4 linked regions of the Homo sapiens genome follow. The protein of the gene in region 3 binds, or shares a complex with, the protein of the main gene of each other region. Each region holds a gene or a part of one and is shown on either strand. Other genes may lie near its edges.

Region 1 (8,161 bases), on a different chromosome or scaffold from region 3:
TTGTGCCTTTCCCTAGTGCCATTTCCTTCCTTTATTCCTTTTTTCTCTCTTTTTTTTTTTTAAAGTTGGAGTCTTGCTCTGTCACCCAGGCTGGAGTGCAATGGCAGGATCTCGACTCACTGCAACCTTCACCTCCCGGGTTCAAGCAATTCTCCTGCCTCAGCCTCCCAAGTAGCTGGGACTACAGGCACCTGCCACCACGCCTGGCTAATTTTTGTATTTTCAGTAGAGACAGGGTTTCACTGTATTGGCCAGGCTGGTCTTGAACTCCTGACCTCGTGACCCGCCTGCCTCAGCCTCCCCAAAGTGCTGGGATTACACCTTTGTTCCTTCTTTAAAAAGTAATGGCTTTCATCATGAACTTAGTGTGTCTTTTCCTGTCCACATTTTCACGGCATGTGTGTAAATTTCATGAATAGGGTTGTACGGCTACCAAATTTTATGTTAATAGTATACTTAAAAATCTTTTAGGCTGGGCACGGTGGCTTACGCCTGTAATCCTGGCACTATGGGAGGCCGAGGTGAGCAGATCACAAGGTCAGGAGTTCAAGACCATCCTGACCAATATGGCGAAACCCCATCTCTACTAAAAATACAAAAACTAGCCGGGAATGGTGGCGTGCGCCTATAGTCCCAGCTACTCGGGAGGCTGAGGCAGGAGAATCGCTTGAATCCAGGAGCGGAGGTTGCAGTGAGCCAAGATTCCCCAAGAATCAGGAAGATTGCCCCAGTGCACTCCAACCTGGGTTGACTGCGTGAGACTCCCTCTCAAAAAAAAAAAAAAAATCTTTCCTGCAATTAGTTTTTTTCATTTGACAGTTTTTAAGATCCAGCCATGTCGACATTTTATTTATATATATATATATATATATATATATATATATATATATATATATATAGTTTTTTCATTTCAATAAGTTTTTCATACATTAATATTTTTACCAACAGCTTTTAATTCTATTGACAAAAAGCAATGGCTTAATCTTTTTCACTTTTGTATCTTTAAAGGTTGTTTTATAACTCAATTAGATCCTTCCTATTTCTTTTACCTATTTCTATTAAAAGTTGTAAGCAAAAAGTTTGGACCAGGTGTGGTGGCTCATGTCTGTAATCCCAGGAGTTCAAGACCAGCCTGGGCAACAAAGAAAAATTAATAATGAGCCAGGTGTGGTGGGACACGCACTTATGGTCCCAGCTACTCAGGAGGCTGAGGTGGGAAGATTGAGCCTGGGAAGTCAAGGCTGCAGTGAGCTGTGATCAAGCCATTGTGCTCCAGCCTGTGTGACAGAGCAAGAAAAAAGTTTGATGACTTTAAAATCTGTCAGTTATCTTTCTCTTATACTTTACTTTATCATGGGTTTAATTCTATGGTTATAAACAATAAAGCATCAAAAACAGGGTAGGAAGCACTCTCACAACCATTTCTGACAAAGATACCTTATAATCTTTAGCTTGGCTTTTATTCTAGTCTTTTTTAAAACAATCGTATGCTCGGGTGGGCACCGTGGCTCACGCCTGTAATCCCAACACTTTGGGTGGCCAAGGTGGGTGGATCACGAGGTCAGAAGTTCAAGACCAGCCTGGCCAACATGGTGAAACCCCGTCTCTACTAAAAATTCAAAAATTAGCTGGGCATGGTGGGGCGTACTTGTAATCCCAGTTACTCAGGAGGCTGAGGCAGGAGAATTGCTTGAACCAGGACCCGGAAGGCGGAGGTTGCAGTGATTTGAGATCACACCACTGCACTCCAGCCTGGGCTACAGAGTGAGACTCTGTCTCATTACAAAAAAAAAAAAAAAGAAAGAAATTATATGCTTATCCTGGCTTTGATGCTTTATTTTAATCATGACCTTTTCCTCAGGTAGGAAATACAATACCACATTCATGACTATCCCATACATCAATCAGGAAAACACACTGCTACACACTCAATAACTTATATGGTTGTTCTCTACCCAGAAACCCACCAGAACCACTGTGGTTGCCTGAAAAGATCAGACGCCTGCTTCCATTGTGAGTCTGTGGTTACAAGAGTTAATGTGTATACTTTAAAATACAATCATACACATTTCTATTTGATTTCATTAAAGGACTGATGGGCATAATGTGTCATATGAGAAATGACAGAAGGCCGAAAGAATAATGATGTGGCTTATCTAGGGCCAAAGCACATTTTAGCAGTGTTTTGGTCTTCTCCCTGAGAATATCTAGCTAGATAACCTTATCTAACTAGAGGAAAAGTTGTATCAAAGATCCTCACACAGTAAAAGTTACTTGGTCAAGTTACCATTTTGTCAGATGCTTTGAAGTGATAAGCATTCTACACAGAATCAAATACTTCCCACACTATCACCACTCACATCAATCGCTACATAAATAATATTCTTTCCTGTTAGTTGTAATTTTACTCTCTGATGCTACTTCTAGTATTTGCATTCTGATTTATTCTAATCCCACCATTCTTACATAATGTTCTTTATAAACTTAAAACCCCAGCAGGGGTTTAAAAAAAAAAGACACAAAAGCAAACTAAAGAGAGAAAACCTAGCATCTCCCTTGTACTACTAACTGAATGGTGAAAGCATTTTAGTTGCTAAGCAATAGAGTTCAAGATCTTTAACAGAACACAATATTGGAGAAAACATCCAACTCTTCCCGCATCTTTTTTCTAGCTGTCTACTTGGCTAAAAATAGAAAAATGCTGATAACAGAGGGTAGAGGGTAGTCCTAATGTTACACTGCTAAATATCCTACTATACTAACCATGTATGCAGAAGTTCTGTCTACAGATTAAAAGTCACCCTTGTAAATAATTTCTTCCCCTCCCCCAAGTTACACATTCCTTTAAAAAAAAAAAAACCTACCTACAGCTTTTTTTCCCAGTTGACTTTAAAAGCTTAATTAGCATAATAAATTTTTCTTGTCATTAGTGCATATTTTATGAGTAGCAAAAAAAAAATTTTTTTAATTTTAAGCAATGAGTATCACATATGCTAAATCATTTTCATTATACTGCTAAATGTACCCTTTAAGCTGAGTGCCTTCTACCTATCAAGCACTGTAATAGGTGCTTTTAAACCTCATAACTAACCCTCCAATCTCTTGTAGGACAGGTCATATTTGTACATGGGACTTAAGCAATGACTAGAGAGAGCTTCCAAGAATCAAATTAAGACGTCTAACACTAAAAATCATGTTTTCCACTATAGCAGCTCGCTGCTACTACTACTCCTTTTCCTTTGAAATAAGACCCCCAAGGAGGTGGTAAACGAAAAGTAGACTGAACTAACGACATAGGACTTTTAGAGACCAAAAGGACTCCTTAACCAGCTTTAAGCTCTAAATCTTGTTTCTTCATTTATAATACAAAATAAGTTTGCTAGTTATTTCTACGCAACTGATTTTGTCACATGATCTATTAACTACTGCAGACAAAATCCTTTTACTTTGGGAAAGTTAACCTATTGTCCTTACAAACAAAAAAATTTAGAAACACTTTTCTTAATCTACTTTTTATTAACAAGTCAATTTTAAAACAAACCATTAAATTTCTTAATACTATGAAACATTATTAAAAGCAGTATTGCTGTAATATATTCTCAATTACAAAAATTGCCACTAATTCTGTTACAAGCCATGAAGAACACTGCTCTATGTTGGTTTATTTATCATACCTTTAGATGTAGTGAACTAGTTTAGTGTGAAGATTAAACAGTATTAGTAGCTGAATCTATGCGGAAAAAATTAAATGCCCTTTTTCCCAATGGCTACAGACCTGTGCTTCCAATATTACATTCAGAGTTGAACCCAACCTTACTTTCATAGCTTCCTCCAAAAGCAGCTGCTTTCTATGCATCCATGCTAGAAGAAATGAAGCTTAAAGCTTCATGTTGAATGTATAGCATGAGTAACAACTAAATGACAGGGATAATAAATACGGATGGTTAATTTTTTCAAGAATGCTTTAGGAGATAATATACTGATCAAAACGCCCTAAAAGTATAAACCTGGGCTAACAAGCTTACAGAATCACTGCAAGAGTAATTTTTTCTACTTTTAGCGTTTCCATGGACCTTTTTCAAGTTTCTACTATAGTAAAAGCAGTACTGTTGCATTTCATAAGGGAATGGAAACATTTATACATGATGCTTTTTGGACTACTATAAAAGATAGTACTGTATCCACCTTATATATTTTCAGAAAGTGTAATGGCACTCAGGTTTAGGTTTTTTTATTTTATTTTATTTATTTATTTTTATTTTTGAGACGAAGTCTCATGCCGTTGCCCAGGCTGGAGTGCAGTGGCGCAACCTCGGCTCACTGCAAGCTCCGCCTCCCGGGTTCACGCCATTCTCCTGCCTCAGCCTCCCGAGTAGCTGGGACTACAGGCGCCCGCCACCACGCCTGGCTAATTTTTTGTGTTTTTAGTAGAGACGGGGTTTCACCGTGTTAGCCAGGATGGTCTCGATCTCCTGACCTCGTCATCCGCCGGCGTCGGCCTCTCAAAGTGCTGGGATTACAGGCGTGAGCCACCGCGCCCGGCCGGCACTCAGTTTCTTAATTATGCAAATATAAATATCTTGACAATATAAGTAACCTCCCATCTACTAGCTGAACATTTATCTAACCAGAAATCTACTGTTCTGGCAACAAAACTACCATAAAAGATTTCTGGCCAGGCGCGGTGGCTCATGCCTGTCATCTCCACACTTTGGGAGGCCAAGGCAGGCGGATCACGAGGTCAGGAGATGGAGACCATCCTGGCCAATATGATGAAACCCATCTCTACTAAAATACAAAAAATTAGCTGGGCATGGTGGCGCGTCTGTAGTCCCAGCTACTCGGGAGGCTAAGGCAGGTGAATTGCTTGAAAACCTGGGAGGCAGAGGTTGCAGTGAGCCGAGACTGTGCCACTGCACTCAGGCCTGGTGACAGAGCAAGACTCCATCTGAAAAAAAAAAAAGATTTCTGACCCAACTGCAAAACTTTTTACTCATTCAAAAACATGTTTGGGCCAGCACGCGGTGGCTCATGCCTGTAATCCCAGCACTTTGGGAGGCCGAGTCAGGTGGATCACCTGAGGTCAGGAGTTCCAAGACCAGCCTGGCCAACACGGTGAAACCCCATCTCTACTAAAAATACAAAAATTAGCCAGGCATGGTGGCGTGTGCCTGTAATCCCAGCTACCAGGGAGGCTGAGGCAAGACAATCGCTTGAACCCAGGAGGCAGGGGTTGCAGTGAGCTGAGATAGCGCCACTGCACTCCTGCCTGGACCACAGAGCGAGACTGTCTCAAAAAAAAGTTTGGCCCCACAGGTAAAAAATCAAGTTTTTTTTCTTGTGACATATACAATTTAAAATTGTACACACATTTCTGTTTCACCTTTTAGTTGGGTTCAAAAAAACCAAAAATCTTAAACTGATCAAAATTTGGTTTATGTTTAAGATAATTCCCTACATTAACAGTACCACTTTGAAAAGTGCACAAAATTCAACTAACATAAAAATACTTGGTATTCCTGTTTTTATTTAAACAAACATATCTGTGAAGTACTTCTGTAAATGTTTTAAAAGTAGAAGAATCGTATTAGTGCCAAACATATTAAGTATATATAAAAGTACAGAGAACCTTTAATACCTACAAAGTATTTAATAACATTTGGCTCTTAAGGACAAAACAAGTATAATATTCCAAAACAACCCACTCTAACCATGTCAAACATGCAATTTCTTTCTCCAAACCAATTTTCATTATGGTTAATACAGAATTCCAAATTAATGCAAACTATGGAATATCTTTTTTAAAGGTGATAATTTAAAATTTTATTCTAAACCCAACAACTCTGTTACACTGTCATAATGTTATAAAGTTTTGGTTGGCTACTTTACCTGGGCTCCTTCTCCATGGTATAAGCAATTCACCACATTATCTAATAAGTTGATATCCAGTTTTTGGCTGAAATCAAGCAGCTGACGAGCTGCATGGTCTGCTAACATTGTCATAATTGCTGGCATAGATTACTGAAAATAAAGAAAAAAAATTGAAGCTGCCTATCAAGTTTTGGTATTATCAAAAACTTCCTACAAGTTATTTTACTTCAACCATGTTATTACAAATATTTTAATGAATACTTTAGAGACTTTAATTACAGAAAACTGAGATAGTAAAAGCAAGTAACAAAAGCTGAAATTACTTAGCTATTTGATAATTACATAAATTATTATGGTCCATTCAACTTTTCTAGTGTTTAGTTTATACACCAGGAAGACTTTCCTATTCTACTAACATTTATAAAGTATGCTAACCTATTATTTAAACGCATCCACTATTAGGATTTTATGGTCCTAAAACGTGATACAGTTCAGTATCTTGATGTCAAAACTTTTTAAGCAAGTAGGATTAAGTTCAAGTGAATGTGATTTTCTTTTCTTCCCAAGTAGGGTCTTCTGAATAACTCAGTAAAAGCTCACTTCACATTATCTTAACTTTATAAAAATAATGCTATAAAGACAGAATGGGCCGAGCGTGGTGGCTCACACCTGTAATCCCAGCACTTTGGGAGGCCGAGGTGGGCGAATCACTTGAGGTCAGGAGTTCCAGACCAGCCTGGCCAACATGGCAAAACCCCGTCTCTACTAAAAATACAAAAATCAGCCAGGCATGGAGGCGGGCACCTGTAATCCCAGCTACTTGGGAAGCTGAGGCAGGAGAACTGCTTGAACCCAGGAGACGGAGTTTGCAGTAAGCCGAGATGCACCACCACACTCTAGCCTGGGCAAGAGAATGAGACTCCATCTCAAAAACAAACAAACAAAGACAGAATGATGTTAAAAATTAAAATGTGGATATACAGTAATTCCTATTGTCTACAGCAATGGTTAGCAGGAACCACAAGTCTAACATATCTTGGTATAAATGCCCTTAGCCTCTACAGAAATAACTTAGCTTCTACACTCAAACCATTCAAATTGTTTCAACCCTCAATGAATTGGGGGATTGAAATAAAGCTACAAACATATTTACTGAATATATGATCTAGGAAAAAAAACTTTATGGGCAATATGCCTAACAAGATTTTTTAAATTCCAGGTATTCATTGGCAAGGTAAAAGCTGTAAAAGCTTGCCCATTCCCAAATAAAAAAGAATTCTAACAGAAAAATGAGCTACTTCGCCTAAATATGCACTGGTTAAAACCTACTAGTTCATATGCAGTGCTATCCTTTTAAGAGGATTCTACTCTAAGATGCTGGCACACATCCACTTTTTTGTTGCCCAGAATTATAAAATATATCTTTCCTCTGCTTTTCTTCAAAGCCAATGCCACTCAAACCTAATTGGTTAAGTCAGTAGTCCTTAACCTTTTTGGGGGTCTAAGATGCCTGAGACTCTGAGGAACCAATAGCTCTAACCCAGTTTTTAAAAACTCACGATTTTGTATACAATTATAGAGGATTCAGGACATCCTGAAAGCCATCCATGGCACTCCCAGTTTAGTGTATTTAGAACTAACAAGGTCAGATCTCCACTTCTTCCCATTTTAGGAACTTTCGTGGACCAGAAAATGAGTAGCTAATTTCTTTACATTATATTTAGACAAACTAGCTTGGCAGGGCGGAAAAAAAGTCATTAATTCCTGGCTATTTTATAACAGCTTAAAAATGTCCATAACAATAATGGCAGCAAATTCTATTTTAATGCAATTGTCTTATTTAAATATAACGTCTGTTACAACAGATTAGAACTCCAAAAGATGAGTCACCTATGATTGATATGATGTAAAAATAATGTAAAACTCAAGAAATTAGGAGTTCAAGAATTGGTCCATTATTGACAAAACTGATGAGACTTCAAAACGTTTCGTAGTAGGCATTAAACAAACGTTTTTAAACAGCAGAATACTTGTTACACACCACAAAAAAACCTTAAGATCTAAATACTGAGAGGAAATATATATTCCACAAATGAATGTGTAAACTCTCCTCCACCTTCAAGTACCATAAAATTTAAAAGATCAGAACAATCTTAATTATTTGAGGCTTAAAAGCAATGTCCACAAAGCACCAAGATCCATGTATCAAAAGTTTTCAAATATTTCGGTTAAATATTGAACAAACTTTTCACCTATTTACTACCATAGTTGAATGCTAAAACAAAAAAGG
Region 2 (4,274 bases), on a different chromosome or scaffold from region 3:
GATAGTGTAGGCTACAAACCTCAGGAAGAAAATACCAGCATGACTTCAGAATAGTCAGACCTAATGGTGTATAAAGTTCTCCCGGCTCCTCTCCACCCACCTCCATCAATCCCACCCTATCTCTAACCCCCAAGTTCTCTGTTCCTCGAGGTTCCCATAGAACATTTAATAAACACTAGGGACATGAGAGAGCAGCGACATGGCCCTCGCCCTCGTGGCAATTAGTCTAGGAAGGGAAAGTCGCTATCGCAAATTTGCCATGCTGACTAGGGCTGAAGGCAATCTTGTAATGTCTGTAGTCGGACATCCAACTCAAGGTAAAAAGCAGAGTGAACTCTAAAGGAACTAAAGCATTAACTGGTAGGACCGACTTCAGGAGAGGGAAGGGGGAGTTCTGGAAAGCAGCATGCACACAGATCTCAAGATGCACGTGTGACCAGAGCCTGCAAGACCTTGTAGGAAATGTGGAGCAGGCGAGATGCATCAGATGTTTTTTGAATAGGACTCTGACCCCTTAACTAAAGATAAGGTTTCCATGGTTAGGTGCCGTTTCTCCCCACCATGCCCTCGGCTTCAAGGGTAAAAGGTGCTGCAAGGAGTTAGGATAGGTGCTGTCCTAGTACAGGGTCTGCCTCATACAGGGAAAGCTTAGTCTCACGTAATCTTGCTGGGCAGGATAGCCCTGTACAGCCCGAGTGGCAGAAAACATCATACACGATGTCCGTCAGTTTGCTGGCAAGAAAAGCTGAATCCAACCCTCATCCCATTTGCTCAGCAGGTAATTTTTTGTGTTTCTGATCTGTTTTTGCAAAAGAAACCAGAAATTCTCTGTACTTGAGTTCCTTCAGGTGAACAGTTAGCCAGGAAACCAGTCCTCTTTGGAGGCTATTTTGGAGTCTCATCTTTTCTAGACATTTTATGATTGATACAATTTTTTAAAAAATCCCATTCTATGTGGTTTTTTAAAAAAACTGGCTCTCACACAAATTGAAACTACTAATTTACCAGTTTCACATTATATCCACACAAGACCTATGCACTAACTATGCTTTTTCTTAATGACTTTGCTCTAATAAGCTATTACTGGTTTGCAGTAACTTCATATAAAGCTTTCAAGGCTTCCCCCATTAGACACGAGATTTCAAAAAATGGAGAGCAGACTTTTCCCATTTGTACAATCTGGAGAGAACTGACCCCTTCCCCGCCGCCCCCCCAAAAGATAATAATCTCTGCTAACTCTTCAGCATTTCCTAAAGCAAATACTAGAGATGATTCAAAAAATCCAGGCAAAGTAGAAGCAATATATTTTGCAACAATTATTCTTTCAATAAAGGACTTGTAAATTCTCTCCCACACCACGTTAGACAGGTAAGTGACGTCACTTCCAAATTTCAACTGTTACATAGAAGATCCAGAATGTCAACACCACTTGCAATCTCCACAAGGTTACAAACAACACATACACCTTCAATTCAAAATACCTGAATGAAAGGTTTCATCCCAATTATGGGGAAAAAACTTCCCATCTCACAGGCTGGTTAGAAACTGGTTCTGAATACAGCGTAACATACACAGCAATTCAGATCTTAAGAAACTCAACTGTTGCCAGTTAATACAGTAAGTAGAACTTTATTCAGCTTCACCCTTATTTCATTTTTCCATATATTTAAGTGATCCTTTCTATACCTTTTAAGGTAAGCAATCATCTCAAGATTATCAGACATCTAAAGAAAACTTTGGTAAACTGGACTATAGTAATCGTATGAGAAAAAAATAGCTCAAGATTCCTAACTGCTACAAGAATAGTGTTGATGGGATCAAACTCCTAATTATCCTAATAGACCTAATTCATTTTTAAATGTGGAAAATATGCAAGATAAATTAAATGCTTAGTTAAAAAAAAAAAAAAGTTTCACCAACTGTTCTCCATTACTGAGAAGCCCCCACACTGCCCCACTGTGCATATTCCTAGTATTTCATCCATGTCCTGCTCTGCTGTGCTGCCCTACAAAAAAACCCTCCCGGGGGGGAAAAAAAAACAAAAAAACGGTGTAGTGTGAACTGCTGAAGAACTTAAATGTTCAAGACATCTTTAAAGTCTAGGAGTACCTGAAAACTGTGGGTAAACATGGACCATTTTCCTTGCGTATCAACTTCACACTAAGCATCTAACATTCAAACAAAAAAGTGCAAAATTTGTAATTATTTTTAACAGCAAGAATTCCCAACCTCCTGCCATCCACTGATGTTCCATCCTGTTTGAGGTTCTACATTAAAACATGATTACTTTTGCCATAAAAGAAAATATTACCCTTAAAATATCTATTTGATATGTACAAACCACATTTTTATTCTGACAGGTCACAGATTTTGAGCAAGTGCTTCCCTAGGTGACCCTACCTAGCCAATATGAAGGTGGAGCAAACACTGCTTTAGCTTAACTGCACTAATATTTACACCATGTAACCCTTCTAACCAAATAGAATACTGCTGACCTGTCATCATCAGTTTGTGTGACATGGCTCAAATGTACAAAAATAAACATAGGGAGAAATTAACCCAATAGATTTCAAATTAAGTGATAAAAGCAAGGCAATTCAAATATTAACATGGCATAAAACTTCCCTACTTTAGTGGTTTCCAAATGCTATTTATAAACAAGGGATGAGTTCACTTGCTTAGATATTTGAAATACAACTTTATTCTGATTCTAAACGAAAAGGAATGGGAATGACAGTAACAAACAAGATTTCACCACTGAATATTGTGATGTGACTGCAGCAGTCTTATATATGAAACTCAAGGAATCAACTGCGTTCCAAAACAGCTAAATATGCAGGTCCAAACAATGAAGTTATTTTTTAAACTGCCACATTCACTCCGAAGCCCACTCATCTCCTTCAGCATCCCACAGATGAAGCACATGTTCCGCTTAGCTAGATAATAATGAGGTGGCACACACGCTGCACCGCTGACATCACAGGACAGCTGCCTATAAAACTAGACTTCTGACGCTGGGCTCCAGCTTCATTCTCACAGGTCATCATCCTCATCCGGGAGAGCAGTTGTCTGAGCAACCTAGACGAAGAGATGGAAAAACGTTAACACTCCAGATCAAAACTGCCAGGAATAAACAAGCCAAACCGAACAATCTGAACAGCAAAGTGGCCACAATACCTCTAAGTCGTGCTCATACTGTGCTGCCAAAGCTGGGTCCATGACAACTTCTGGTGGGGCGAGAGCAGGCATGGCAACAAATTCCAAGTTAGGGTCTCCAATGAGCTTCCTAGCAAGCCAGAGGAAGGGCTTTTCAAAGTTGTAGTTACTTTTGGCAGAAATGTCGTAGTACTGTTTAAAAGAAAGGTAAAATTACTTTTTAAAATTCATTATTAAGATGACGATTTTTCTAGGACATTGCAAGATAAGAAAATGTTAAGATTCTTGGCAAGGCATGGTGGCTCATGCCTGTAATCCCAGCACTTTCGGGGGCTGAGGTGGGATTGCCTGAGGCCAATAGTACACGATCAGGCCTGGGCAACAGAGCAAGACCCCAACTCCACAAAAAAACAAATTAGGTGGGCATGGTGGTGAGTGCCTGTGAGCCCAGCTACTCAGAAGGCTGAGGTGGGAGGATTGCTTGAGCCCAGGAGTTCAGGGCTACAGTGAGCTATGTTCATGCCACTGCACTCCTGCCTGGGCAACAGAGCAAGACCCTGTCTCGAACAACAAATATATAAATACACAAACATTTCAGCTGACCAACCGGGCCAACAGTGAAACCCAATCTCTATCATTCTTTAAAAACAGTAGTATAAAAAAGACAAAATTATTTCCGGCCGGGCACAGTGGCTCATGCCTGTAATCCCAGCCCTTTAGGAGGCCAAGGCAAGTGGATCACTTGAGGTCAGGAGTTGGAGATCAGCCTGACCAACATGGTGGAAACCCCGTCTCTACTAGAAAAAAAAGTACAAAAATTAGCCAGGCGTGGTGGTACACACCTGTAATCCAGCTACTAGGGGAGCTGAGACAAAACTGCTTGAACCCGGGAGGCGGAGGTCGCAGTGAGCCAAGATTGCGACACTGCACTCCAGCATGGGGGACAGAGGAAGACTCCGTCTTGGGGAAAAAAAAATCATTTCCATATATAATAGACACTGGTTAATTTCATGGTCTTACATATAATCTCCGCTAAGAGAAATAACTCAGGAAGTTTTAATTTTACACACCTGAAGATTCTTCTTTCGGTGGAAGACAATGGATTTCGCCTTCACTTT
Region 3 (8,908 bases):
CCAAAAAAAGAAAAGAAACAGCAAGTAATCAGGAGAGACCAAGGAAGCAGATATGAGGGGCAGAACTAGGGGGTGCTATCCGAAAGGCCTCCTCCTACAACCTCCTCATTCTCAGATACAGTTGTGATACCCTGAATCCTCCCACCCCTAGGCTTCCTCTGGGTTCTAACTTATAACCCTGGTTTGTCTGCCTTTATCAATAAGCATGAATTATTATCCTGGGTAAGGTGTCCACTCATTCATTCAAAAACACATTGATTACTACTGTGTGCTGGATGTTGTTCCAGGTCAGCAGTATAGCAGTAAAGGAAGCATAAACCCTGACCTCTTGAAGCATATGTTCTAAATGACACATTTAGTATGTGATTTAAAAAAAAAAGGGGGGGGTTGGGGGGCCGGGAGTGGTGGTTCACGGCTGTAATCTCAGCACTTTGGGAGACCGAGGCAGGTGGATCACGAGGTCAGGAGTTCAAGACCAGCCAGGCCAACATGGTGAAACCCCGTCTCTACTAAAAATACAAAAATTAGCTGGGCGTGGTGGCACACGCCTTTAGTCCCAGCTACTCGGGAGGTTGAGGCAGGAGAATTGCTTGAACCCGGGAGGCGGAGGTTGCAGTGAGCCAAGATCGCGCCATTGCATTCCAGCCTGGCGACAGAGCAAGACTCCAACTCAAAACAAACAAATAACAACAACAACAACAAAAAGGCATTAACAACAACAACAAAAAGGCATTATTAGGAAATAGTTAAATAAAGATATCAGGGATTGGGCCATGCACACATCTGGGGGAACATGATTCCTGCAAAGGGAATAGCAAATGCAATGGCTCTTGTAGGGGCAGAGGGTTGGAGAAACTGCAACAGGGCCAGTGGGGCTGAAGCACAGAGAGAGAGGAAAAAAACAAGGTAAGAGAAGAGACAGTTAACAAGGGGCCCAAGTCATAAAGCCCATTTGAAGAACAGTGGCTTTCGCTATAAGTGACAAGGAAAACCACTGAAGTTTTTAGCAGAAAGCAGATGTCATCTGACGTACATTTTGACAGGATCACTCTACTTGCCACATAGAGCCTGGCATTTAGAAGGTGCTCAAGAAACGACCAGTTGAAATTGCATAAAAATTAACCAGGCCAGGGCCGGGCGCAAAGGCTCACACCTATAATCCTAGTACTTTGGGAGGCTGAGGTGGGCGGATCACGAGGTCAGGAGATCGAGACCATCCTGGCTAACACGGTGAAACCCGTCTCCACTAAAAATACAAAAAATTAGCCGGGCCTGGTGGCGGGGGCCTGTAGTCCCAGCTACTCGGGAGGCTGAGGCAAGAGAATGGCATGAACCCGGTAGGTGGAGCTTGCAGTGAGCTGAGATTGCGCCACTGCACTCCAGCCTGGGCAACAGAGCGAGACTCACCTCAAAAAAATAAAATAAAATAAAATAAAATAAAAATTAACCAGGCCGGGTGCGGTAGCTCACGCCTATAATCTCAGCACTTTGGGAGGCTGAGGTGGGTGGATTACCTGAGGTCGGGAGTTCGAGACCACCCTGGCCAACATGGAGAAACCCTGTCTCTACCAAAAATACAAAATTAACCGGGCGTGGTGGCACATGCCTGTAATCCCAGCTACTCAGGAGGCTGAGGCAGGAGAATCGCTTGAATCTGGGAGGCAGATGTTGGGGTGAGCTGAGATCGTGGCATTGCACTCCAACGTGGGCAACAAGAGTGAAACTCCGTCTCAAAAAAAAAAAAAATTAACCAGAGTCGGGTGTAATGGTTCACTCCTGCAATCCCAGCATTTCCGGAGGCTGAGGTGGGCGGATCGATTGAGCACAGGAGTTAGAAACCAGCCTGGGCAGTATGCCGAAACCCTGTCTCCACTAAAAATACAAAAACTAGCTGGGTGTGGTGGCAGGTGCCTGCAGTCCCAGCTACCTGGGATGTAAGGTGGGAGGATCACTTGAGCCCCGTAGGTGGAGGCTACAGTGAGCTGAGATCTTGCTGCTGTACTTCTGGAGACCCTGTTTCAAAAAATAAATTAACCAGAAACCAGCCCAGTGCAATAACTCACACCTGTAATTCCAACATTTTGGGAGGCTAGGCGGGAAGATCACTTTAGACCAGGGTTCGAGACAAGCCTGGGCAACAGAATGAGACCCTGTCTCCACAGAAAAATTTAAAAATTAGCCAGGTGTGATGGCATCTGTAGTCCCCATGACTTGGGAGGTTGAGGTGGGAGGATCGCTTGAGCCCAGGAAGCCGACGCTGCAGTTCAGCGGTGATCGTTCCACTACACTCCAGCCTGGGTGACAGAAGGAGACCGTCTCTAAAAAGATAAAAAAATTTAAAGAAAAACCAACAAAAAAATTAACCTGAAACCCCAGCATCTCTTGCAGTTCTGAGATGGGACAATTTGAGGGTAAAAGGTGGTGGTGAAGCCTCCAGATAGAATAGGGACAGAACTTCTCAGCTGAACGGGGGCCCATTCCTCAGTCCAAGAGAGAGCGAGACAGAGATGCACCCCTCCACACTCACTTTATAAACCAAGAAACTGGAGCACAGAAACGTAAATTGATTTGTCCAAGGTCAGCAAAGGATCAGCGCCAGAGCAAAAGCAAAGGGCTAATAGAGAAACATCCTCTCCCCGCTCCGCAGCAACGTCAGAGACTTTCTGAGGTGAGATGCATGCTCCTGCAAAGCGTCAGCAGTGACTCACATCGATTCCAGGGACAGCGGCGCCAGCCCGGGGCCCCCGCGGGCGTGGGCCTGCTGGGAGGTGGCTCTGCGGGAGCGACGCGCGAATACAGGCCGCAAATGATAGGCGGGCGGCGCAGGAGCCCCATCTGGAATCCCCGGCGGACTCGCACCGCCTCCGGTTGACAACAATGCTAATATGAGACGCCACTGCTAGCAGCTGCAGGCTGAGCTGCTCTGGCGAGTCAGACGCCCTTTAAGCCTCAGTTTCCCCATTTGTGAAAGGAGCCAGCGCCGCTCAACAACCCCACTCCCACCGCCACCCCTGGGGCGCTCGGCCGTCGAAGGCTAAGTGAAGAAGGCCGAGGGGGCAGGCAGAAGGCGCACACGGGCGCCACGCCCTCCTCGCCCCGCACCCCTGTTCCAGGCAGGTGACGGGGAAAGGAAAGGGACCCTGACTCTACCGTAAACAGGCGGCGCCGCCGCGTGGGGGGAATCGAGCGCGCGCCTCCGCCCTCTGGGGCGGGGACGGATTTAGGGTCCGGGTCAGGCCGGGGTCGCCACCTCCGGATCCAGCGGTCCAGATGTCCAGCCGGCTAGTCTGTTAGCTCTCTCGAGCTCCCGGCCTCACGCGCTTCCAGCACCACCTGCTCTCCGCACCGCGGCGGATGATGGCGGAGGAGGAGGATTTTGAAAGCCGGCAGTTTCTTTGCTTCGATTTGATTTGTTCGAGGCCCCGGCCGGCTTGCCCTCGCCCCGCTCGCGCGGCCTCTCGGGTAGAGTAGTCCGGTTCCCCATCTGGGAGCGCGATGGGGCGCGCACCGCGAACTACCCGTCCCATGGCGCACCGCGCGCAGAGCGTCCTCCACCGCCCTCCTCTTCGCCCTCCCCTGGTGGCTTCTGGCTCTTTCTCGCAGAGACCGCAGGGAGGTGTTCAGCCGGGAGCGCCCAGAGACTACAATTCCCAGAATGCGTTGCACCCAGGTCCCTCAGCTCTTCCGGAAAGGTTTTGTTCGCGTAACTTTGTTGATAACAGGTACTGCTGGCTGCTGGGTCTCTTGGGCAAGACACAGGTATCCATTTCCCGAAAGAAAAGACTCTTTTCCGTCCCATGAAACTGAAAGGGCATTCGAAGGCTTCCACATAAATATGCACAAATTACCTGATAATTAAAAAGGGGAAATAGTAACTATCGTAGAGAAGCTCCGCAGACACCACTTGAACGGCCACGTTAACATCAACAGCAGGACAAGCTGACATTCATCGCACGCTTTCTGTGTGATGCACTGAGAAAAACACGGCGTCACCGTCCGGTCTATAATGCATGACCTTAGTCTAATCATGAGAAACCCAAGCTGAGGGACATGGTACAGAATAACTGATCTGTACCCTTCCGGAAATGTCTGTATTATGTAAGACAAAGAAAAACTGAGGAACTGTTGCCGATTACAGGAAACGAAAAAGACAACTGAATGCAAGACATGGTCCTGGATCGGATCCTGGGTGGGGATTGCTATAAAGGACAATACTGAAACAGCAAAACTTGACTATATTAGATAATAGTATTGTATCAATGTTAAATTTATTAATTTTGATTATGGTACAGGGTTATGTAAGAGACTGCCCTTGTTCTTGGAAAAAAATGCTGAAATAATTAGGGACAAAAAGGACATGATGTCTGCAACCTTTATGGTTAAAAGAAATATACCTATACATATACATAGAGAAAGCAGAGACACAAATGTGGCAAAATGTTAATCAGTTAATCTGGTTGAAGAATATGGGAGTTCTTTGAACATTTTTGCAACTTTTCTGTAGGTGTGAATTTAAGCATAAAAACACAAACAGCGTTTTTTTTTTGTTTTTTTTTTTTGAGATGGAGTTTCACTCTTGTTGCCCATCTTGGCCTCCCAAAGTGTTGGGATTATAGGCGAGAGAGTGTGAGACCAGCCTGGGCAACATGGTCAAACCCTGTCTCGACAAAAAATACAAAAATTAGTTGGACGTGATGGTGCAAGCCTGTAGTCTCAGCTAAGGGCCTGAGGCAGGAGGATCTGGAGCCTGGGAGCTTGAGGCTGCAGTGAGCCGTGATTGCACCACTGCATTTCAGCCCTGGCGACAGAGCAAGACCTTGTCTCAAAAACTGAAAAAAGAAAAAAAAAAAAAGTTAAACAGATCATGCAGGCTGGGCGCAGTGGCTCACACCTGTAATCCCAGCACTTTGGGAGGCCGAGGCGGGCGGATCACCTGAGGTCAGGAGTTTGAGACCAGCCTGACCAAAATGGAGAAACCCCGTCTCTACTAAAAATATAAAATTAGCTGGGCATGGTGACGCATGCCTGGAATCCCAGCTACTCGGGAGGCTGAGGCAGAAGAATCGCTTGAACCCGGGAGGCGGAGGTTGCAGTGAGCCGAGACGCACCATTGCACTCCAGCCTGGGCAACAAGAGCGAAACTCCGTCTCTAAATAAATAAATAAATTAATTAATTAATTAACAGATCATGCCATATCCTTTTACACACAGCTCATTTAATCTTCACCACCACAAGGGAAGTGGGCATCATTACCACCCTTCCCAGCACAGAGATGAGAAAACTGAAGCTCTAGACAGAGTGTAACTCTCCCAGTTCTCAAAGTTCCTGAGATGTGGATCCTCTTTCCACCTTCCCTCTCCTTTTTACCTACAAGGCCCATGTCAAATGCTACTTCATGAGTCTCTCCCTCCTGCAGGTGCCCACAGCAAGATGCAAAGCCCCACAGCAGTTGGCCTGGGACTCTGGGGCTCTTTGACAGAGTTAACACTGTTCTTGGCAGTTTCCTCCTCAGCCTGGGAGGGTCTCCAGAGCAGACGCTGTATCCATCTGGGCAGTATCTTCTCTGGGCCTGGCCTGTCATAGGTGCTTCAGGTTTCCCCATTTGAACCAGATACCAGTCGGGTTACCGGATGTTTGCTTAAAATGAGTCATAGGCTTCCTGCTATTCCTGTGCTGCTTCCAGCTAGGACTGATCGAATCAGTCTGGATTTTCCTTGGGGTGATCCGCAGGCTCCCTTTTCCAATTTTACTTCTTGAGACTTTCCTTGGCCCTCACACAGAGACCTCCCAAAGGGAAGAGGAAGGTGGGCAGGGGAACATCTTAGCTGATCCCGTCCTCATCCAGCTGATAGGACATTGGGTTTTCGGAACTGGAAGGGAATTCTTAGACAACAGAAATTCAGTGGCCTTCAAGGACCTGGGAGGTAACAGGAAGTCATGGGGCTTGTCGGGGCTTGGTGGGGCTTGGGGGGAGTTAGAGAGTGGATGTTCTGCCTGAAGGTGTTCACATTCGAAGCTAAAAATCACAAACTCAGCCTGACAGCACCCCCTAGCAATCTGGATTCTGTCACTCCTATATCCTGATTTTTTTTTTTTTTTTTTTTGAGATGGAGTTTCACTCTGTTGCTCAGGCTGGAGTGCAGTGGTGCGATCTCAGCTCACTGCAACCTCCGCCTCCCAGGTTCAAGTGATTCTTCTGCCTCAGCCTCCCGAGTAGCTGGGACTACAGGTGCACGCCACCACGCCCGGCTAATTTTTGTATTTTTAGTAGAGACGGTTTCACCATATTGGCCAGGATGGTCTCAAACTCCTGACCTGGTGATCCACTTACCTCGGCCTCCCAAAGTGCTGGGAGTACAGTACAGGCGTGAGCCACTGTGGCCGGCCTCCTGAATCTATCTTAAACCTCTTTACAAATGGGGAGACTGGGGTTTGAAAAGGAACAGGGGGTTTGCCCAAGGGTGCCCAGTGAATCAGAAGAATCAAGAATCATCACTGTTTCTGGCCGGGCACAGTGGCTCATGCCTGTAATCCCAGCACTTCGGGAGGGCGAGGCAGGTGGATCATCTGACGTCAGGAATTCGAGACCAGCCTGGCCAACATGGTGAAACCCTGTCTCTACTAAAAATACAAAAAATTAGCTGGGCATGGTGGCAGACACCTGTAATCCCAGCTACTCGGGAGGCTGGGGCAGGAGAATCTCTTGAACCCAAGAGGCGGAGGTTGCAGTGAGCTGAGATCACGCCATTGCACTCCAGCCTAGGCAACAAGAGCAAAATTCTGCCTCAAAAAAAAGAATCATCACTGTTTCCAAGCAACACACTTATCTTCTCTCTTTCTCCTTCCAGCCCTTTCTCCAGCTTTCTCTCTTTCAAGTTATCACCTGAGAGCTAGTCTGCCTGGCCCAAGAAGTGTAATCATGGCCTTTGACAGATGGATAGTGTCATCCAAGACTATCTTGTTCCTTATTTCAACAAATGAAGAACTAAGGCCCAAGTTACAGTGTGACTTACACATGAGACAAGGCTGAGCATGGTGGCTCACAACCAACTGTAATGCCAGCACTGTGGGAGGCCAAGGCAGGAAGATTGCTAAAGCCCAGGATTTGAGACCAGTCTGGGCAATATAGTGAGACTCTGTCTCTACTAAAAACAATTAGCCAGGCATGGTGGTACATACTTGGAGTCCCAGCTACTAGGGAGGCTGATGCAGGAGGATCCTTGAGCCCAGAACGTGGAGGTTGGTTGCAGTGAGCCATGGTCAGGCCACTGCACTCCAGCCTGAATGATAGAACAAGACCCTGTCTCAAAGAAAAAAAAAAAAGAGAGAGAGAGAGAGAGAGAAAGAGAATAGAAGACAGGTCTCTAGGGTCCTTTTCTATTATTATTATTACTTTTTTTTTTTTTTTTTTGAGATGGAGTCTCACTCTGTCACCCAGGCTGGAGTGCAATGGCACAATCAAGGCTCACTGTAACCTCTGCCTCCCGGGTTCAAACGATTCTCCTGCCTAAGACTCCCGAGTAGCTGGGATTACAGGTTCCCACCACCATGCCCAGCTTATTTTTGCATTTTTAGTAGAGATGGGGTTTCACTGTGTTGTCCAGGCTAGTCTCAAACTCCTGACTCAGGTGATCCACCCACCTTGGCTTCCCAAAGTGCTGGGATTACAGGTGTGAGCCACCATTTCCGGCCTTCTAGGGTTGTTTTCAACATATACACTTCACTTGTGAGTGCGAGGTGAGTTTAAGGGGGAATCAGGAGAAGCAGAGAGTGTTCCAGGCCTTTCTCTGTTGTGCAGCCTTTTTTTGTTGTTTTTGTAAAGAATGTTTCAAAGACAAAAGCAGGCTGCCTCTGATTAGTCTGGTTTACTTAACTGAGTGTTTTAAATTCCATTCTGGTGCCTGAAAACGAACTTAATTGCCAATTGTAAATGGAATAAATAATAATATTTATGTTGGATTCCTGAAAACAGACCAAGGCTGCTGACTTGCCATTTAGTCAGATCAAAAACAAATGGCTAAAGTATGCCAGACATGTGAGGAATGTGGAGGGAAATTCCCAACACCCAACTGGGTGCTCGCCTGCAGCCCCTGGAGAGAGATGGGTCAGCCCACCTGCAGGGCAAGGCAGCCTCCCCCAGGGTCCCCTCCACTGGTGGGAGTGGGTTGGCTGCATCATCTATGAAGGACAGTCGAACCACATCTTTCTCAGGACTCAAACCAAGGGCATCCCACTAGAGCAACTATTTAACCTTGATAAATAACCATCATTACAATAATTCATTTGTTCTACAAATAGTTATCAAACATCTATGTTCCAATAGGCACTGTTCCAGCTCCTGAAAAATCCAGTGATGAAAGAGATTGAAAAGGATGGTGTCTATGGAGGAGTTTTAAATTCTGCTCTAATGTTTATGGAGGATTTCCCGGTACCAAATGGTTTCTGGCAGATTATCTTCTCTTTTAATAATTCCTTCATCGGCTGGGTGCGGTGGCTCCCGCCTGTAATCCCAGCACTTTGGGAGGCCGAGGTGGGCAGATCACGAGGTCAGGAGTTCAAGACCAGCCTGACCAATATGGTGAAACCCTGTCTCTACTAAAAATACAAAAAAATTAGCCAGGCACTGTGGCACGTGCCTGTGGTCCCAGCTACTTGGGAGGCCTAGGCAGGAGAATCACTTGAACCTAGGAGGTGGAGGTTGCAGTGAGCCGAGATCACGCCACTGCACTCCAGCCGGATCAACAGAGTGAGATCCATCTTAAAAAAAAAAAAAAAAAATAGGCCGGGCGCAGTGGCTCACGCCTGTAATCCCAGCACTTTGGGGGGCCGAGGCGGGTGGATCACGAGGTCAGGAGATCGAGACCATCCTGGCTAACACGGTGAAACCCCGTCTCTACTAAAAAAATA
Region 4 (8,161 bases), on a different chromosome or scaffold from region 3:
CAGGCAGATCACGAGGTCAGGAGTTCAAGACCAGCCTGGCAAACATGGTGAAATCCCGTCTCTAAAAAAAATACAAAAATTAGCTGGGCTCAGTGGTGTGCGCCTTTAGTCCCAGCTACTTGGCAGGCTGAGGCAGGAGAATTGCTTGAACCTGGAAAGCAGAGGTTGCAGTGAGCTGAGATCGTGCCATTGCACTCCAGCCTGGATGACAGAATGAGACTCCGTCTCACAAAAAATAAACAAATAAATAAATAAATAAACTTTTACCACAGAGGTGAGGGCATGATTAAACAACAAGGAGCATATAGCCACCGAGTACGGCAGAATTCTACAGGAAGCACTGTCATAGTCTCACTAGCTTGTCCTTACTTCCCAGGCAGGTAACAATATACTGTAGTTGCCCTAAACAACTATTTACTAAGCCCGTATTATAGCTTGGCTAAGTAAAGTATAAAATATGCAGCTTTTTTTTTTTTTTTGAGACAGGGTCTTACTCTGTCACCCAGACTGGAGTGCAGTGGCATGATCACTACTCACTGCAGCCTCAACCTCCCAGGCTCAAGTGATCCTCCTACCTCAGTCTCCTGAGTAGCTGGGATCACAGGCATGCACCACCATGTCTGGCTAATTTTTTTGATTTTTTGGTAGAGGCAGGTCTCACTATGTTGCCCAGGCTGGTCTGGAACTCCTGGGCTCAAGTGATCCTTCTGCCTCAGCCTCCCAAAGTGCTGAGATTACAGGTGTATGCCACTGCACCTGGCCTAAAATATGCAGCTTTTAAACATCTAAGATAGAACAAGACTATCCCTCTAGTGGAGATGTGTTAGAAGATCTTAGGCTGGGCACGGTGGCTCAAGCCTGTAATCCCAGCACTTTGGGAGGCAAAGGCGGGCAGATCACTTGATGTCAGGAGTTCAAGACCAGCCTGACCATCATGGCGAAACCGTCTCTACTAAAAATACAAAAATTAGCTGGGCGTCATGGCACACACCTATAATCCCAGCTACTCTGGAGGCTGAGGCAGCAGAATCGTTTGAATCCAGGAAGCGGAGGTTGCAGTGAACCAAGATGGCACCACTGTACTCCAGTCTGGGCAACAGCGTGAGACTCCATCTCAAAATAAATAAATAAATTAGCTGGGCCTGGTGGCACATGCCTGTAATTCCAGCTACTTGGGAGGCTAAAGCAGAAGAATCGTTGGAACCCGGGAGGTAGAGGTTGCAGTGAGGTGAGATCACGGCACTGCACTCCAGTCTGGGTGACAGAGGGAGATCCTGTCTCAAAAAAAAAAAAAAAAAAAAATCTCAGGCTCACCCTTCCTTGCCACCAAAAATAAAAGGAAAGGGTAGGTTTCAGTGCTTTCCTCACTTCCTCCTTTTATTACACTACCTCTTTCTCACTTTCTATATATCTGATGTAAGCTTTCTACAATATCCTATGTCCTAATTAAGGGTATTTGAAGACGCTAGTTTGAGAAAAACAGAACATCACATTAGCCATTCTGCTTTAGAGAAAGATAGACTGCAATGGTAGCTTTTAAGCAGTGCTCCAGAACATGTAAACTACTTTCCAGAAACATAGGGGAATAACAAACAAAAGGGAAAAAGTAATGGCCAGGTAAAGCACAATCCAATTTGAGAAATTTGCTAATAGTTATAAGTACCAAACTATGCAAATGAGTTGTTTTTCATTTTAGGAATCAGAGAATTCCAGGTTATCCCCTTCTAATAGTGCTGAGGGATAGTACACACTCTGCTGCACTTTCTAAGGAGGAGAAGAAGAGCTTTAGCGATTGATGCTTAACCCACAGTCTGTCATCCAGACTCTAGAGGACAAGAAGCCTCTTGGTAACATAGCAAATTGTGGCTACTAAACAATATCATAATATTTATTTTCCTACGAATGTTATCAAAATCTCGGTATGCCCCTGAGATTATGTCAAAAGATCTCACTGATTTTTTTAAAAAACAGAAGGCCTGCCTCATCTGTAAAATGGGGAAAAGATCACCTTACTTCCCTGAAACTAGACTACATAGATCTCTTAAAATCTCTTTCACCTTTAAGGTCATGAGCCTGAGCCAGGTACGGTGGCTCACACCTGTAATCCCAGCACTTTGGGAGGCCAAGGTGGGTGGATCACTTGAGGTCAGGAGTTCAAGACCAGCCTGGCCAACACGGTGAAACCCTGTCTCTACTAAAATACAAAAATTAGCTGCACTTTGGGAGGCCAAGGAGGGTGGATCACTTGAGGTCAGGAGTTCGAGACCAGCCTGGCCAATATGGTGAAACTCCGTCTCTACTAAAATATAAAAATTAGCTGGGCATGGTGGTGCACACCTGTAATCCCAGCTACTCAGGAGACTGAGGCAGGAGAATCGCTTGAACCTGGGAGGTGGAGGTTGCAGTGAACCGAGATTGTGCCACTGCACTCCAGCCTGGGTGACACAGCGAGACTCTGTCCCAAAAAAAAAAAAAAAAAGATCATGAGCCTGAAATTCTGAGGTCTTCTTTCTTTTCTTTTACCCTTGCTTTGCTTTTTTTTCTCTCAAAAGCAACCAATGGAGTTGTACTGTCCAACACAGTAGCTAGTAGCCAGATATGGTTACCTAACTTAAAGTTTTATTAGAATCAAATAAAGTTTAAAATTCAGTTCCTCAGTTGAACTAGCCACATTTCGAGTGCTCAACAGTTATCACTGCAGGAAGTTCTCTTGGGCAGCACTTTACAGGCCTTTACAAACTCTGCTACCCACCGCTTACCCTTTGGTTTAGATTCCCTTCTACAATTTGCCATTCAGAAAATCATACTACATATTTAATGGGAATGATGCAATAAGTGATCCTTAACATAGAATCCATAAAACAGATGATTGTCCTAAATAATTAAGTCAGAAACCTTCTGTAATACCAACGTTTGTGTGTGTTTTTTTTTTTTAACCACATCCAAGTACAAGCTATTTATATTTTTCTTTAAAACTGACTTCCTTTTTTGGCTTAAAAAAAAAAGATAATTTTAAATTACTACTGTATATGTAAAGCCAACATCACCTGCCTTATAAAGAAATGAAAACACAGCCGGGTGAGGTGGCTCACGCCTGTAATACCAACACTTTGGGAAGCCGAGGCGGGCGATCACTTGAGGTCAGGAATTCGAGACCAGTCTGGCCAACATGGTGAAACCCTGTCTCTATTAAAAACACAAAAATTAGCCGGGCATAGTGGTGGGCGCCTGTAATCCCAGCTACTCGGGAGGCTGAGGCAGGAGAATCACTTGAACCTGGGAGGTGGAGGTTGCAACAAGCCAAGATCGCACCATTGCACTGCAGCTTGGGCAACGAGAAAGAAACTCCGTCTCAAAAAAAAAAAAAAAAAGAAATGAAAACACAATAATACTAAGTTCTAGTTGGGCCTGTTAAAAAATGGGAGATTAGCATATATTAGACAAGTATTGAAGATATACTAGCATTAAATCAAGATTTTCTGTGTGAAATAAACAGGATGTGAGCACCTCAAATAAATAACTGAAAAGGATACACCTTTCTTAGTACATAATCATCATTCAAATGTTACATAATGCTGTGAATGTTGAATCCCCTAAAATCATTTCCTAAATTGGTATCTATCCTGTGCTTTGGGAAATACTGTTCTAATGAATTTAGTATAAATTCCTGTCATTTGAAAATCCTTGGCCGGGGATGGTGGTTCACGCCTGTAATCCCAACATTTTGGAAAGCCAAGGTGAGAGGATCACTTAATTAAGCCCAGGAGTTCGAGATCAGCCTGAGCAATATAGCAAGACCCTGTCTCTATTAAAAAACTAAACAAAACAAAACAGAACGATAATTTGATCTACCTGTCTTCAGCCATTTTTTTTCCCTGAGCTCTATTCACTATTTCTTGAATTTACACAACTTTCCCATACTATTCCCTCTGCCTAGAATATTTTTCCTTCCTATTGCTCTCCTTTGATATCCTATCCATCCTTCAAGACCTGGGCTAACATACTAACTCATACTAACTCCCGCAAACATTTACTGAGACTCGATGAGCTGAAAATTGGATAGGATTTTGTTACTATCTTTGTTTTTTTATTTTTTATATTTTCATTGACATTAGCATTATTATGTGATTGTCTTATACCCCCTACCATATTATCATATAAGGTCCTTAAAAATGGAGACCCAGGCCGGGCACGGTGGCTCACGCCTGTAATTCCAGCACTTTGGGAGGCCAAGGCAGGTGGATCACTTGAGGTCAGGAGCTTGAGACCAGCCTGGCCAACATGGCGAAACCCTGTCTCTACTAAAAATACAAAAATTAGCCGGGTGTGGTGGTGGGCACCTGTAGTCCCAGCTACTTGGGAAGCTGAGGCAGGGGAATCACTTGAACCTGGGAGGCGGAGGTTGCAGTGGGCCGAGAATGTGCCATTGCACTCCAGCCTGAGCAACAGAGCAAGACTCCATCTCAAAAAAAAAAAAAAAGGAGACCCTGTCTTACTAATTTTTGTATTTTCTGTAAAACCTAACACATTGGTTAGCACTGAGACATGCTCAATAAGTACTCACTGAATTTAAACGAAATATTAACACAAATATGTCCACACTCAATTACCACATCTGGAGGTAGACCCAAATTTATAATCATTTTTGAGAAAGAGGAATATATTATTATAGCATTTTACTATGCCTTTTTCCTTTAATCTACTTTTATTTTCTTTATCCATTCAGATATACTGAAGTAAAAGACTTGGCTGGGCACAGTGGCTCATATCCATAATCCCGGCACTTTGGAAGGGCAGGAGTTCCAAGATCAGCCTGGGCAACATATGGAGACTCAGTATCCACATACAAAATAATTTGCCAGGTGTGGTGGTATGGGCCTATAGTCCCAGCTACTCAGGAGACTGAGGCAGGAGGATTGTGTGAGCCCAGGAGTTTGAGACTGCAGTGAGCTACGATCGTGCCACTGCACTGAAGCCTGGGCAACACAGTGATACCCTTGCCTCTTACAAAATTAAAAAAAAAAATTGTTGATGACAAGATCAAGACAGAGCAAGATCCTGTCTCAAAAAAAAAAAAAAAAAAAAAAAGAAATATTACCGGTTCTTAAAGACAGGAGTATTCTTTCAAAATGCCACTGCTGCCTATTTTCAGCCTGGACAATGTGGCAAGACCCTGTTTCTACAAAAAAAATACAAAAATCAGCTAGGTGTGATAACGTGCCTGTAGGCCCAACCAACTACTTGGGAGGCTGAGATGGAAGGATCACCTGGGCCCAGGGAGGTGGAGGCTGCAGTGAGCCATGATTATGCCACTGCATCCCAGCCTGGGTGACAGAATGAGACCCTGTCTCGAAAAAAAAAAATAGAAAAGATGGGTTCCCTCAGCCATCTGAACTAGAGTCACCTCAGTTTGAAACATTTACAACATTTCCTCCTTAAAAATAAGTAGGGCCAGGCGCGGGGGCTCACGCCTGTAATCCCAGCACTTTGGGAGGCTGAGGCAGGTGGATCACGAAGTCAGGAGACTGAGACTATCCTGGCTAACATGGTGAAACCCCGTCTCTACTAAAAATACAAAAAATTAGCCGGGCATGATGGCGGGCGCCTGTAGTCCCAGCTACTCAGGAGGCTGAGGCAGGAGAATGGTGTGAACCCGGGAGGTGGAGGTTGCAGTGAGTCGAGATTGCACCACTACACTCCAGCCTGGGTGACAGAGCGAGACTCCATCTCAAAAAATAAATAAATAAGAAGTATCTTTTCTTTGTAGAATGATTTAGAATTTTAAAATGCACAGTCTACACCTAGGCTTATTTACCTGCAAGGATTAGACAAGTCCCTGGTAACAGTAGTTACCTCTAGAAAAGATAAGAAAGGGATAGGAAAGAGACTTTCTTGGGTTGGGTGCGGTGGCTCACGCCTGTAACCCCAGCACTTTGGGAGGCCGAGGCGGGCAGATCACGAGGTCAGGAGATGGAGACCATCCTGGCTAACACGGTGAAACCCCATCTCTACTAAAAATACAAAAAAACTAGCCAGGTGTGGTGGTGGGTGCCTGTAATCCCAGCTACTCGGGAGGCTGAGGCAGGAGAATGGCGTGAACCTGGGAGGCAGAGCTTGCAGTGAGCCGAGATTGCGCCACTGCACTCCAGCCTGCGACAGAGCAAGACTCTGTCTCAAAAAAAAAAAAAAAAAAAAAAAGGAGACTTTCTTTTTTTTTTTTTTTTTTTTTTTTGAGATGGAGTGTCGCTCTGTCGCCCAGGCTGGAGTGCAGAGTGCAGTAGCAGATTCTTGGCTCACTGCAACCTCCGCCTCCCAGGTTCACGCGATTCTCGTGCCTCAGCCTCCCGAGTAGCTGTGACTATAGGCGTGCACCACTTGGCTAATTTTTTAATGTTTAGTAGAGATGGGGTTTCACCATGTTGGCCAGGCTGGTCTCAAACTCCTGACCTCAAGTGATCCTCCCACCTCAGCCTCTGAAGTGCTGGAATTAAAGGTTTGAGCCACCACGTCGGGCCAGGAAAGAGACTTAAGTTTTTTTGTTTTTTTTTTTCCTGACACAGTCCTGCTCTGTCGCCCCAGGCTGAAGTGCAATGGCACCATCTTGGCTCACAGCAACCTCCACCTCCCAGGTTCAAGCGATTCTCCTGCCTCAGCCTCCCGAGTAGCTGGGATTACAAGCTCCTGCCACCACAGCAAGCTAATTTTTGTATTTTTAGTAGAGACAGGGTTTTGCCATGTTGGCCAGGCTGGTCTCAAACTCCTGACCTCAGGTGATCCGCCTGCCTTGGCCTCCCAAAGTGCTAGGATTACAGCCACTGCGCCCGGCCAAGACTTACTTTTTACCAGATACTTTTTACCTTTTGAATTTTGTTCCATGCATATATTTTTCCTATTTAAAAACTAAAAATTTTTAAAATTTATATTCAGTACCTAATCTTGGTCTTTTGGCTGGTATTTCATCAGTGTCCACTGTAGAAAACAGAGTGCTGAAAAAGAGAAAGAAAAAAATATATATATATAGATTTACACACACATTCATTTCTGTAAGTAAACTTACTATTCATATAACACATCCCCCTTCTATCACTTTGTCATAAAATGAGATCCAACTGATGTTTTAAAAGAGAATGCTGGTGGGACACAGTGGCTCGTGCCTGTAATCCCAGCACTTTGGGAGGCCAAGGGGGAGGATCGCTTGAGCCTTGGAGTTTGACATCAGCCTGGGCAACAAAGTAAGACCTCATCTCTACGATAAAAAAATAAATAAAAAATTAGCCAGCCTTGGTGGTAAGTGAGTGTGGTCCCAGCTACACTAAGGCAGGAGGATCACTTGAGCCCAGGAAGTAAGGCTGCAGTGAGCCCAGGTCATGCCACTGCACTCCAGCCTAATCAAAAGAGTGAGACCTTGTTTTAAAAAGAAATAAAACTAAAAATAAAAGCAAAACAAAAGAGAGAATGCTATTCTATAGTAGGCTTTTCACATGCGAAGACTTACTGCTACAGTTTCAACTATTTGAGAGAGAAACAAACTTCTTACCAAATAATAATTTGCCATCTGGTTAAAGTACAAACTTAAAACTGGCCAAAGTCACTTAGCTAGTAAATGAACCCAGGTAAGAGTTTAGGACAGTATTTTCTCTTTCGCTCCAGAAATGATTTAAAAACAACAAACAAGCAATTTCCTTTTGAAAATGATCCCCAAAGAAAGCCATCTTTTACTTTAGGTGACAGTATTAATATGAACAGCCTTAAAAGACAATTCTTTTTTACTGTTTTTTCTTTTGTGTGTGTGTAAGGGAGTTAAAAAAAACTGTTCTACAACTTAAAAAAGACAAATCTTAATCAAGTGTTATATTTAACTTCATTTTTATCACGCAAACTACATTATGATGGTAATAAAGAACTTTGGAATTGAGGAAAGTTTCAGGACCCAGATGTCAAGAATGCTAAAGGGTCATAGTATATTACTCATCATCTCTCTGAACCCTTATGATCAATTATATTCACACATGCAAAAAAAAAAAATGAATAGAATGAGATCCCAGGATTCCATTCAGCTCATAACTTTATACATTCCAACAAGCCCTGCCGGGCTTCATTTTGACTGAAAATTGGTTTACACTGAGAAGTGTTGTTTTGGATTAAGGATGTGAACACCTAA

Evidence for each region.
Region 1: the proteins of RANGAP1 (region 3) and XPO1 are in contact, whole or in part, in a cryo-EM structure (PDB 9B62), measured with the Homo sapiens proteins. Residues at the interface, in NP_001265580.1 of Homo sapiens: Ala2, Asp5, Ile6, Leu9, Ala10, Thr12, Leu13, Ala14, Thr16, Gln17, Val18, Ala19, Gln22, Leu23, Ser24, Phe25, Lys28, Glu44, Arg55, Ala561, Thr564, Lys565, Pro566, Ser568, Glu571, Ser572, Ser574, Phe575, Arg577, His578; in NP_003391.1 of Homo sapiens: Lys245, Ser248, Thr249, Tyr252, Lys253, Glu281, Gln282, Val284, Thr285, Leu289, Met292, Gln293, Gln296, Arg340, Asn342, Leu343, Lys514, Val518, Ile521, Lys522, Leu525, Glu529, Arg532, Lys534, Lys537, Ala538, Ala541, Met545, Phe554, His558.
Region 2: the proteins of RANGAP1 (region 3) and RAN are in contact, whole or in part, in a cryo-EM structure (PDB 9B62), measured with the Homo sapiens proteins. Residues at the interface, in NP_001265580.1 of Homo sapiens: Ser29, Gly58, Asn59, Thr60, Asp86, Thr89, Gly90, Arg91, Leu92, Arg93, Ile96, Asp121, Ala123, Phe124, Gly125, Asp127, Asn151, Cys152, Gly153, Met154, Gly155, Arg189, Asn190, Arg191, Gln217, Asn244, Asp245, Asn246, Thr247, Asp273; in NP_006316.1 of Homo sapiens: Asp18, Gly20, Tyr39, Val40, Ala41, Thr42, Leu43, Gly44, Val45, Glu46, Glu70, Lys71, Leu75, Arg76, Tyr79, Asp91, Thr93, Ser94, Arg95, Val96, Thr97, Asn100, Lys123, Asp128, Arg129, Lys130, Lys132, Lys134.
Region 4: the proteins of RANGAP1 (region 3) and SENP2 are in contact, whole or in part, in a crystal structure (PDB 2IO3), measured with the Homo sapiens proteins. Residues at the interface, in NP_001265580.1 of Homo sapiens: Glu467, Asn508, Thr511, Thr514, Arg515, Val518, His519, Leu523, Lys524, Ser525, Glu526, Asp527, Val529; in NP_067640.2 of Homo sapiens: Tyr408, His409, Trp410, Val477, His478, Asp495, Met497, Gly498, Gln499, Lys500, Pro536, His537, Gln541, Gln542, Asn544, Gly545.

The regions. Positions count from the first base shown.
Region 1 is NC_000002.12:61,527,883-61,536,043, forward strand, and holds part of XPO1 (exportin-1), read right to left. Parts: intron 6,797-8,161; exon of another isoform or gene 6,541-6,796; intron 6,022-6,540; 5' UTR 6,016-6,021; coding exon 5,890-6,015; intron 1-5,889. UniProt on the Homo sapiens protein: Mediates the nuclear export of cellular proteins (cargos) bearing a leucine-rich nuclear export signal (NES) and of RNAs.
Region 2 is NC_000012.12:130,874,686-130,878,959, reverse strand, and holds the end of RAN (GTP-binding nuclear protein Ran), read right to left. Parts: coding exon 4,227-4,274; intron 3,349-4,226; coding exon 3,178-3,348; intron 3,079-3,177; coding exon 3,034-3,078; 3' UTR 1,282-3,033; downstream 1-1,281. UniProt on the Homo sapiens protein: GTPase involved in nucleocytoplasmic transport, participating both to the import and the export from the nucleus of proteins and RNAs. Switches between a cytoplasmic GDP- and a nuclear GTP-bound state by nucleotide exchange and GTP hydrolysis.
Region 3 is NC_000022.11:41,282,836-41,291,743, forward strand, and holds the start of RANGAP1 (ran GTPase-activating protein 1), read right to left. Parts: upstream 3,353-8,908; 5' UTR 3,151-3,352; exon of another isoform or gene 2,836-3,150; coding exon of another isoform or gene 2,709-2,835; exon of another isoform or gene 2,528-2,708; intron 2,319-2,527; exon of another isoform or gene 2,066-2,318; intron 2,008-2,065; exon of another isoform or gene 1,928-2,007; intron 948-1,927; exon of another isoform or gene 1-947. UniProt on the Homo sapiens protein: GTPase activator for RAN. Converts cytoplasmic GTP-bound RAN to GDP-bound RAN, which is essential for RAN-mediated nuclear import and export. Mediates dissociation of cargo from nuclear export complexes containing XPO1, RAN and RANBP2 after nuclear export.
Region 4 is NC_000003.12:185,588,939-185,597,099, reverse strand, and holds part of SENP2 (sentrin-specific protease 2), read right to left. Parts: intron 6,987-8,161; coding exon 6,931-6,986; intron 1-6,930. UniProt on the Homo sapiens protein: Protease that catalyzes two essential functions in the SUMO pathway.